Regions from separate parts of the Homo sapiens genome. Here region 1 is linked to region 2. Evidence: fine-mapped expression QTL. A gene starts in region 2. The other region holds a variant in brackets. All regions are shown on one strand. Distances are from middle to middle.

Evidence for each region.
Region 1: its variant is fine-mapped to the expression of ZNF467 in blood mononuclear cells (TOPMed, PIP above 0.99). The same link has a PIP of 0.9 or more in monocytes.

What each region holds. Positions count from the first base shown.
Region 1 is chr7:149,751,157-149,756,518 of GRCh38, forward strand. No RefSeq gene overlaps it. Among named protein-coding and RNA genes, the nearest start is that of ZNF467, 20 kb to the right of the region's middle. The variant A/G (reference allele first, on the strand shown) is at 2,418.
Region 2 is chr7:149,770,954-149,776,315 of GRCh38, forward strand. ZNF467 (zinc finger protein 467) reads right to left here and starts at 2,635. Exons shown (of 5, transcript NM_207336.3): 1 at 2,155-2,635; 2 at 46-121. The coding sequence starts at 79. It also overlaps the pseudogene SSPOP. RefSeq lists silencers at 562-651, 662-981, 992-1,141, 2,078-2,257.

The sequences.
Region 1 (5,362 bases), 20 kb before region 2:
GTGAGCAAGCTCTGCTTTCTTTCCTGAAACAGCAAAATGAGACAAGTGTGTGCACGCTGTGCTGCTGCAGCTGCGAAATGAAAAGCTTCTCATTAGCATCCTTTGCACAGGGGTAGGGGTGGGGGATAACTCAGGGACAGCTCTCAGAGTGCAGAGCTGGGGCTTCTGTTCCCAACCCAGGCCCCCGGCAGGCCCCCTAGGTGTGTCATCTGCCTCCAGCCCAGCTAGGCAAGTGTGCTTCCATCTGGGTTGGGGAGAGGGATGGGTGGAAGTCTCCTGTGGGGTAATTGTGAGTCCTGATCTGGTCCCAGAATGTGAGCCCACCTTAGTTGTGGGACCCTGGGACCTCCACCCTCCCCAGCCCGCTGAGCAGGGAGGGGCATGCAGAGCTGGGTGGAGGGGAAGCAGGTTCCTCTGGCCACACAGGCTCTTCCTGTGCCAGGGGCAGCCCAGGCACAAGATGACAAGGAGAACCGGAAACTAGCCAGCAGGGCCTGCCCTGCAAAATCATGGATTTCCTCTTTCCCTCCCTCCCACCCTTCAGGCCCCAGCAGAACCTCTCTCCTCCAGGCCTCCGTTCTGTCATGCAGGATGAGAGCAGAGGTTCTTAAACCAGCTCTGCGGACCATGTGGGCCCACAGAGGGGCTTAAAGAGGGTGTCCACATACCCTCTAAAATTACGTGCAAATCATTGTTTCTATGCACATTACTCTGAAGGGAGCTTTAAACAACTAAATGCTTGGTGGTTTGCTAAAGGTTAGGAACCGACAGCCTAGAAAATTCTCAGGCCTCTCCAACACTGACATTCCTGCTTTCCCCTTTCTGTCTGCTTTCCTGAGTGTGGTTCTCAGCTCTCTTCTTAGTTCAGGTAGCTCTCTTCTCATCTAATACATATACTTTGCAGTAACGGCCAACGAAGGTGGTATATTACAGTGAGGCTTTAAATGGGACATGCAGAGTATGTGAAACATACCAGATATCTAACTCACATAATTGCATTTGAGCAGTAAGTTTAGCTTTAACCATCTCAGCAGCCACATGAAAAAATAGATCGCTGAATTTATTAACTTTGGGATTTGTGTTTGCTGTCACCCTGTCTTAGTTCACAGCTATAACTCTGCAGGGGTGGATTTTAGGCACTCAGATTATCCGGTAGGGGAGGGATTTTGAGATGGGTAGGCCTTGTAAAGGCTCCTCTTCCACCTGTACAATTCAACATACGTGTTGTGAGTGTTCAAATGTGCCAGGTCCTGGAAATACCAAGACAAAAAAACACGACTTCCGCCCTCGAGATGTTCCCAGTGGGCCTGGAGAGATGAGGCTCCTACAAGGGTGTAACCTTTCTAAACCCCGGTTTCCTTACCTGAGAAGTGAGGACAGCAACCCCGTACCAAAGGGGGCTTAGGGGAATTAAGTAGGAGCCTCAGTCACAGGAGGCACTCACACATTTTAGGCACACGCGGACACACCCAACAACTGCAGGCGACATCTGGTAAGGTGGGAAGCAGAGGAACCATGACAGCTTAAAGGAGGAGATTGTTGTGTGCTGGGATCATTGGGGAAGGACACCCCCAGGAGGTGGCCCCCATCTGTGCTCGAAAAATAGGTAGGATTTAAAAGGGAAGTCAGGGCAGTAGGCACTTTGTGATGGGGAAGCCCAGGGAGGCCGGGGCAGGAGGCAGGAAGGACCACACGGCCCGGAGACAGGAACAAGACCGCTTGGTGTAAGGGAGGGTGTGTACCCAGGAGGTTTGGAAAATAAGTTTCAAAAGTTTGTTGGGGCCAACTGTAGAGAGCCTTGAGTTAGAACAGACATGTATTGCACACTGGCTAGGTGGGCACTCTGCTCTGTGCCAGGGAAGCTTGCCACCCCCAGAGGGACACACAGAATAATGTGGCACAATGTGTCAACCGCTAAGGCCTCTGGATATTCAGATGAGCAGAAGTTTCTAAGCTGGGGCGTAATAAGTTATAAGGAAGATCAGCCTGACAGTTGGAGGATAGATGGGGAAGCAGGAGTTGGGGAGAAGTCAGAGGGGGACCTGATAGGAGAAGGTTGCCCACTGGCCTGGGCTTGGGGGGACAGTACTGGGAGGGTCAGGGGCAGCAGGGGCAGCAGGGCAGGCATCTGCAAAGGATGAGCGTGCTATGACGCGAGCTCCATCATTCTGGAGAAAGAGGATCCTGAGGCCTTAGGAGTTCTCCTGGAAGCCCCACAGTGAAATCTCAAGAGAGAAAATCCCAGCGAGGACAGGGACACTGGGCCCACGGGAATCCTGTCTTGCTGGGCCGGAGGGGAGCCCTGGGTCTGGCTCCTGTAGAGCCTGAAATAGAATCCGATTTGCGATGCCCCTAATGATGTTATGTAATGACATTGCATAAGCCCGTTACGTAAATCAAAGTCCTGCTATTGACCA[A/G]GAATGTCCCCTGCCCCAAGGCTGACCTAATCCCACGCCTGAAGGCTCAGTCCTTTGTGGCAGTTGGATAAATCTGTTTCCTAAAGCCTCTGTGAAACCCTCCCGACCTTAAAGTCTCTGTCTTTAGGGTTCCTGGGGCCTCCTTCTCCGTTGCTGCTTCTCCACTGTGGGAGGCCTCAGTGTGACACTCACTCATCCTTCCCCAGGTGAGGGTTCCCAGGGAAGGACAGGATTCCAGTCCTTCCACCAGCGTGGAATTGTGGCCGTGCGCCCTCTTCTGGGGGTCTTGCATACTCCCTCTGACTGTGAAATACAAGACTTGTCTCTGGTTAAAAGACATTTCAAGGATCAGTAAGTGAGTGAAGAAGTTTTCTTCCCTGTGGGGCATGGGTGGCCTCCCCAGGACCCTGGAGTTAACAACTACGAGCAGGTTCTTGAGTCCCAGGAGCAGAAAGAATCTTTCACTACTGGAAACCAGCATGTCCCGTGAACGCACTCACCAACCTGTCTGCCTTCAGTCGGCCCATCTGTCTCCCTGAACATACTAGCAGAAGCCCTCCCACCCTCAACCCACCTCGCCAACCCCCACCCCGGCTCCCCTTCAAGCCCTCTCCCCAGCATAGGCAACATCTTCCTCGGGAGGCTGTCTCCTTCCTTCATCTATGTCTCTCTACAAGTAAATCCTGGTGTGCACACCACCACCCCCGACACATAAACACAGTTTACAGAAACACCAAACAAAACAGTCATGTTTGATGGAAAAAGGCTGAGTTCCCAGTTGCTCTTAGTGTCTCCTAAAAGTCAACTGTTTACTGTCCTATCAAAGCTATTTTACTGTTATAGGACTAGGAAAAATTTAAATTTAAAAATCACACGAAGAATAAAGTAACACAAAGCAAAACTGTTTATGTTTTATCTTTTTTTTTTTTTTTTTCAGACAAGTTCTTGCTCTGTCACCCGGGCTGGAGTGCAGTGATACAATCTTGGTTTACTGTAACCTCAAACTCCTGGGCTCAAGGCATCCTCCTACCTCAGCCTCTTGAGTCACTAGGACTACAGGCCTGCTACCATGCCTGGGTAATTAAATTTTTTTTTTTTTTTAGAAATGGAGTCTCCCTATGTTGCCCAGGCTGGTCTTGAACTCTTGGCCTCAAGTGATTCTCCCACCTCGGCCTCCCAAAGTGCTGGGATTACAGGTGTCAGCCACAGTGCCCAGCCTCTTTTGGCTTTTTTGAATGATATGACACATCTCCAAAACATAGCACAGGGTGGATCCAAGAGCTCCTGGGGTAAGAGCTGCCTGGACCCACAGGTCCACTCTCATGGGCTCTGATTAGAGCTGCACTGCCCCATTCCCTCCCAATACCAGGAGCCCTCATTTCAGCCTCAGCTCCCCCAACTTTGACACAGTATTTTACTCAAGGTCTCTGTTATGAATTGAATTGCGCCCCCCAAGAAGTCCAAAAAGTTGTGTTGAAGTCCTAGCCCTGGCCCCAACCTATGAATATAGCCTCTTGAAAATAGGATCTTTGCGGATAAAATCAGGATGAGGTCATTAGGGTGGGCCGTTCTCCAATATGACTGTTGTCCTTATAGGAAGAGGAGGGACACAGACATGCCCAGAGTGGAGGAGACCCAGGAAGAAGGTGATGGGAGGATGGAGGTAGAGATTGAAGTGCTGTGTCTATAAGTCAAGAAATGGCCAGGAGAAAGGCCTGGAACAGAGTCTTCCCTTGAGCCTTCAGAGGGAGTGTAACACCTGATTTCACACTCATAGCCTCCAGACCGTGAAGGAATAGATTTCTGCTGTTTTGAAGCTATGCAGTGTGTAGCACTTTGTAAAGGAGGCCTCAGGAAGCGAACACAGCAGCTTCGGTGAACGCAGTGCCACATGGCACAGCTCCCCCCTTGCCTGTGTGCAGGGGGCAGCAATGTCAGCAGGACAATTTTCAGGCAATTCACAGAGACTGTGGCTTGGAGTTGGGCCCAGGCTGGCCAGTGTCTTGGGAGTCTGTGAGGCCTCGACCCTCTTCCCAGGTTGCTATCTGCCTGCCCCATAAACACATCCTGAGACTTTGCTACCTTCCTTTCCCCCTTCCTTCCTGGTGTTCTCTCAGAGCTGTACCTGTCTGCACTGCCTGGTCTCCTTGGTACATCACCTGCTTGGACATCAGCCACCCTTTCTCAGTGCCTCGATTCAGGATGCCATAATATATGTTTTCTATGAAAATGAAGCTTCATTCTGCCTGCCGATTCCTACCTATTTTAAATCACAGCTGACATCCACGCCTCAACAAAGATTCCCATAGCTGTAGCTCCATGATTCATGATCGCGTCTAGAAAGGGAACATTTTGCAACAGATAGCCAGGCCCAACTTCCATGGCTTCATGCTTCTTCCCAGGTCTCTGCCACCCAGCACTGTCCTCTCCCAGGAGACAGATGCATGCTAATGCCACGTGTGTGTGTAACAGGTTTCCCGGCTGGCTGGAAGCCTGGTCCCCAGTTGCTTACAGTCTTGGCAAGTTAATTCACCTCCTCAGAGATGCCCTCCTGATCTCCAGGTGTGAGTCCCTGCTCCTTGCTCCTTGTTCCATGATCCTTTGCACATACTTCTCTTACCAACCCACTAGGTCCAACCGCGAGTCTGTGAGTGCCCTGAAGACCTTGAATGTGTGTCCTGAAGACCCCTCTCTGCAAGGGGACAGTGGAGCTTGGTGTTTAAAAGTACAGGTCCTAGGAAAATGCAAACCAAAATCACTCTGAGATGTCGCCTCAAAGCCATGAGGATGGCCAGTATCAAAAACCAGAAAATAACAATTGTTGGCAAGGATGTGGCGTCATTGGAAGCCTCATGCATGGCTGGTGAGAATGTGAAATGGTGCAGATGCTGTGGAAGACAGTATGTCAGCTCCTCAAGAAATTAAAAATAGAATGACCATATGAT
Region 2 (5,362 bases):
TCCTCCTAAGCTTTTCCCCAAGTCCCTTCATTTCTGCCAGCTCACCCAGGGAGCTGAGGGCCTCCAAGGTCTCTCTCATGGTAACCCAGAGTAGCTCCTCCTGGGGATCAGGCCACAGAACCTATGGAGAAAAGACAGCCTTGTTCAGATTTTTCCCACGCCAGCTTCCACCTGGGCCCTGGCTCTGCCCAACCTCTCCCTATGGGCTCTTCCAGGAGCTCCAAAGGTGACATCCCCAGGTACAGCTGGGGGAAATTTGGGAAACTGGGTTTAGAAAGCCAAGCCAAGAGATCTTTGAAGGTGGCCCAAGAAGGCCTTGAAACGATTTCTGTCAGCTCTGGAAACCAGCCGCGCCACCCCCTCACCTGGCAGGTCTGTCACCGCCAACCCCGGCCCATCAGCACCGCAACTCCACGCCCCAGCGTCCTTGCCTGGGAAAGTGCAGGCAAGATTCGATTCTCTGGGGAGAGGCTTGAGGGTGGGAGCCCAGGGTGGGGAGTGGGAAACTTCATCTCCCAGGTCCTCCAGCTGTCACTGCCCGAGCTGGTGAAATAGGAGCCAGCCCAGGGGCGGGAGTGAGTGTCACTTTAGGGGTACTGCTTGGGGAGGTCCTCGAGAGGATCCTCTTGTAGCTAGAAAATGATCGCCTCTTCCTAAACCCCTACCACAAAACCACCTCTCACCCGTGCCGGGCTGCCCAAGGCCCGGACACCGCCCCTGCTGCCCCTTCCCTGCTCCGCCTTCCGCGGCTCCCCCGCCCCTCCCCCAGCAGACTCCCCTCCCCCATCTCCCCGGCAGCCTTCCCTCTGCCCCGCCCCTCCCGCTCCCTCTGCCTTCCGCCCTCTCTCCCCTGCGAATCGGGCCGGCGCCTCGGCTCCGCCCCCGGCCCCGCCCCTCAGGCTCCGCCCGCCCGAGCCCGGCAGGGCCAACCCCTCGAGGCCCCGTCCGGGTCGGCCCTCCGCTGCCACCGCCTCCCCTGACCCTACGCTCCGGGCCGCCTCGGCGGCAGCGCTCCCCTCCCCCTCTCAGACTCCAGGCTGCCTTTCCCTACCCTCCCGGTTCTCCCCCGCTCCATCTCCCTCCCCGGCTGCACACCCTCTCCCTTCCTTTCCCCCTCCTCTTTTCCTTCCTCGCCAACCCCCGCCCTCCTCCTCTCAGCTCTTTTCCCCAACCCAGTTCTCCTCTCCCCTCCCTCCTCTCCTCCCCCACCCCGGTTTCCCTTCCTTCTCCTTTCCTCGCCTCACCTCGGTTCCCTTCCCCTCCCCCTTTCCAGCCCTCCCCCACGTCTCCCCACCGCCCTCCCCCTCCCCCCTCCCTTCTGCAGCTCTCCTTCCCCTCCGAGGCCCCCGCCTCCCTTCCCCCTCTGTCTCCCCAGCAGGCTCCAGCTTCGCTTCCCTCCCCGTCCCCAGTCCCCAGAACCGCTCTTCCCCTCCCCCCTCCCAGGCTGCTTCCCAGCTCCCGGGTCCTCCGGCCCCCAAGCCTGGGGGTCTAGGGCTGACCCGCTCTCTCGGGACCTTCCCGCGGGCCCTGCCCTCCCCACTCCGTCTCCCCTCCGAACACCCCTCCGCGCCTCTCTTCTCCGCCGCGGCGCCCCCTCCCTATTTCTGCTCCCCTCGGACTTCTCACCCCTCCCAAGTTTTCCTCCCGACGGGACCCTCAGCTCCACCTCCCTGCCCCGCCGCCCTCCCAAGCAGCTCCGATCGCCGACTTCATTCCAGGTCCCGGCCCCCTCCCCAGCTCCGGGGCTCACCTGTCAGCGCCCTCCTCTCCCGCCCCTACCGAGTGGCCCGGTCCCCAGCGCCCGCTTCTTCCTCCCCTTCCCCCTCGGCCCCCTCCCACACTCCCTCTCTCCTCCCCTCGGGGCCCGTCGTCCCCCTTCCCACCTGCCTCCCGCCCGACCCCCTCCCAGCCCCCGCCCTTCCCTCCAGCCCCCCCGGTCTCCTCTACCCCCACAGCCCTCACCCTGCCCGCGCCGGCCTTGCCCTCCCTTCCCCCCAGCCCCCGACCTCCCCGGACCCGCGCCCCTCCCCCACGCCCGCCGTCCGCGCCCCTACCCCCGGGGCTGTCACCTGCGCGGAGCCGGCCGTGACCCAACCGCGGCGCTGAGGGAGACGCGGGCGGGGCCGCCTGCAGAGGAGCCTCCCCGGCCCTTACCTGGCTGGCCGGCCGCTCCGCCCGCGCCGCGGGGACCCAGGCGCCCGGGCCTCCTGCCCCGCCGGCTCTGCTCACAATGGCGCTCGCCGCCTGCAGCTCGGGTGCTGACGGCCTGAAAGACTGACAGACTGACAGCCCCGAAACTTCGCGGGGAGGAGAGGGATAGACGCGCGGGGAGTCGAAGCCGGGAAACGGCGCCTGCAAGGGAGGAGGGACCGAGGGAGCGGGCGGAGAGCCCCGGCGCACCGGGCTGGGGGAGGCAGGGGCAGGGGGTTTCAGGAGTGGGGTCCCAGGAGGGAGCACCGTGGGCTTAGGTGGGCAGGTGATGGTCCTAAGGCTCCGAGCCTGGAGTAGGTGTGGAAGTGGGAGCTCAGGACGGGGGAGGGGAGGGGAGGGGAGGGGAGGGTGATGGGAGAGGGGGTGGAGGAGGGCGAGGAGGCTGGGGAGGACAGGCACTCGGGCTGCGGGGAAGGGTGCCAAGGGAGGGTGCTCGCGGCCGCGGAGGGAGGAGCCGGGGAAAGGTGGAGCGCGAACGGGTGGGGGGGTGGCGGGGAGGAGTTGGGGGAACGAGGAGGGGCCGTGTCGGGGGGGAGCCAGCGAGTCGTGCGCTGCCGTCTCTAAGTCGCCGGTGCCAGCCGGGTGTGCAGCGCCGCGCTCCCGCGGGAGGACGGCCCGGGGGGTCGGTCTGGGAAACTCCGGCCCCGCCCCCATTCTCCACCCGGATTCCACCCCGATCCACCCAGACCCGCAGCCCCTCGCCTGGAGTCCCGAGGACCCGATTCGAAACCAGCCGCGGGAGCCGTGGGGGCAGGCGGGAGAGAGGGCTGGGCCCCTGTGCTTGCGAGAACGGGTCCTTCGAAGTAGAAACTGGGGAGAGGACTTTAAGCCAGGTCCCCTGGGAGAAGGCCGGGCCAGGTCGGGAGCTCCAGGGGGCAAGGCTGGGACGGGGCTGGGCGGAGATTCTGAGGGCGGGGTCCGGGGGAGGGTCTGGGAGGGGGCTGCAGAGAGGGGAGGGCTCTATGGGCGGGAGACGATTGCTGGGGGGCCTGCTGGCCCGGACACCACCTGGAGTTAGATGTGGAGGGCAGCCCTCAGCCCTCAGCCCTCAGCCCCAGCTCCTCAGGGGACTCCACTCGCCCTCCCTGCCCAGGTTACGAGGTTTCTCCTTGGCCTTGTTCCCGCTGCGCCCACTCCTGAAAGCTCCGGAGATGCTGAAGTCTGGACTGTTAGTTCCCGGTCTCCTCTCCATGAACTTTCTCCAAACCCCTGGGTTCCAGCTTCCTCCCTTCTGCCCCTTTACGGGAAAGGGTGACTGCAACTCGGGTCTCTTCCCAATCCCAGTGCTGCCTGATCAGCCCCGGTTTGAATCCAGAGCTGAGTGAGGCTGGGAAGGGGAGGGTGTGAATGGCCCTTGAGCTCCTGCTACCACAGCCCACCACAAGGATGAGTGCCTGGAAGAGCGCCCATCACTCGGGCTCAGCTGTGAAGGCTCCTCTGCCTCCAGGATGAAGGGAGCACCTGGAGTAGCATGTGTCACTGTGCGTGCTGGGGTGTGGCCGAGCACCTGTGCCGGTGTTGTGAGACTTACAGTGAGAGTGTGCATGTGTGTAAAACAGGAAAGGGGGGTGTCTGGGTGTGCGTGTGGCTCTTTCTGAGGACTCCAGAGCAGGAGTTGATCCCAGTCATCCGTGACCCCCTGAGAGACTCACTCTGGGCCCTTTTTTGGCCCTGGGACCAATGGTGAACCCAGGAGAAGGAGAGCCCGGCCCAGCTCTGGTTAACAGCAGCCCCCTTCCTCCCCTAGGTGGAATGACTCTACAGGATACTCGGAGGGATATCAGGTTTAGGAGACCGAGGGGTGTGGAGTCGGAGCCAGGCTGCATTCCAGCCCGGGTGTCCGGGTGTGCTCAGAGCTCTGCTGGGACCAGGGTGGACCCCGGATTCCCCTGTGGAGCCTGTCACTGCCCCTCCCAGCCGGATTCTCGGATTATTTCATCCGGCTTAGCTCTGCCCCAGGGCTGGGGGAGCTGGCTCCCCCGCCCACTCCTTCCAGAGGGTCCTCTCATTCCTCAGCATAGGCTCCCCAGTTCTAGACCCCAGAGACTCTAGGAGACCCTCGAAGAAGGAGACAGGGTGGGCCCAACCAGCCACACATAATCATCCCCAGCAAGAAACTGGACCCTGGAGAAAAGGGTACATGTTGCCCACGCATCTCCACACACTCAGGAACCCCAGCTACCCTAGAAGTGCTCCCACTCACTGCCCCCGACTCCTCAGTTTGGGCAAGAGAGGGGCGGGAGGCAGGGGAGCATCATCCAGGCAGAAGTTCAAGGCTGGAAGACCCCATCAGTCGTTTAGCCCAGGAGCTCTTAACCTTTTCATGGGGTCATGGCCCTCTTGAGAATCTAATAAAAGTATAGAACTGTCTTCAGAAAAATGTGCACATACAATTTCAAAGAATTACTGGAGTCTGAGACCTATTTGTGCATCCCTGGGAAGTCCCTGAAATTTTTACTGGGAAGGAAATTGAGGCCCAGAAATGGAGGGTGGCTTGCCCAGAGCCCCATGTTAATTTGTGGTAGTGCCTGAGAGTGTGAAAATACACACACACACACACACACACACACACACACACACACACACACACAAAGGGAAACAGATGCACTGGAAGGGGACAGGAAGGAGACTGTTTCCAGGGAGAGCTGGCCTCTGAGGGGCTGGTGTGGCAGGTCCAATCCGGTTGTGGGCAGCTGGTGCCCTGGGGCATGAGACTGGAATAAAGCCCCCCACAGCCCCCAGAACTGGCCACTGGGCTGCGGGGAGGCTGCGTGGGGCAGGAGAGAGCACCGCTGGCCTCTCTGCCCTCTCTGCAGCATTGCCTCTCTTGAGCCCAAGCCTCACGTTCCCCAAAGGTGCCCTGGGGGTGAGGGCACCATGCTACTCCCTGCCCTCCTCTTTGGGATGGCGTGGGCCCTGGCTGACGGGTAAGCAGCCCACCCTGGACCCCTCTGACAAGGGTCCTCCTTCTGCCGCATGCCCAGGGACCCTCTGGGGCATCAGACTCCGTGCCCCCCACCCCCGGGATCCTCCCTCCACCCCCGCCACTTCCCATGAGTGTCTCTCCCTACCTTAGCATCCTCCTTACTTCAATAACCACCCCTGGGAGTGGTGTCATAGGACAGGGCTTTTGGTGACAGAGGGAATGGTG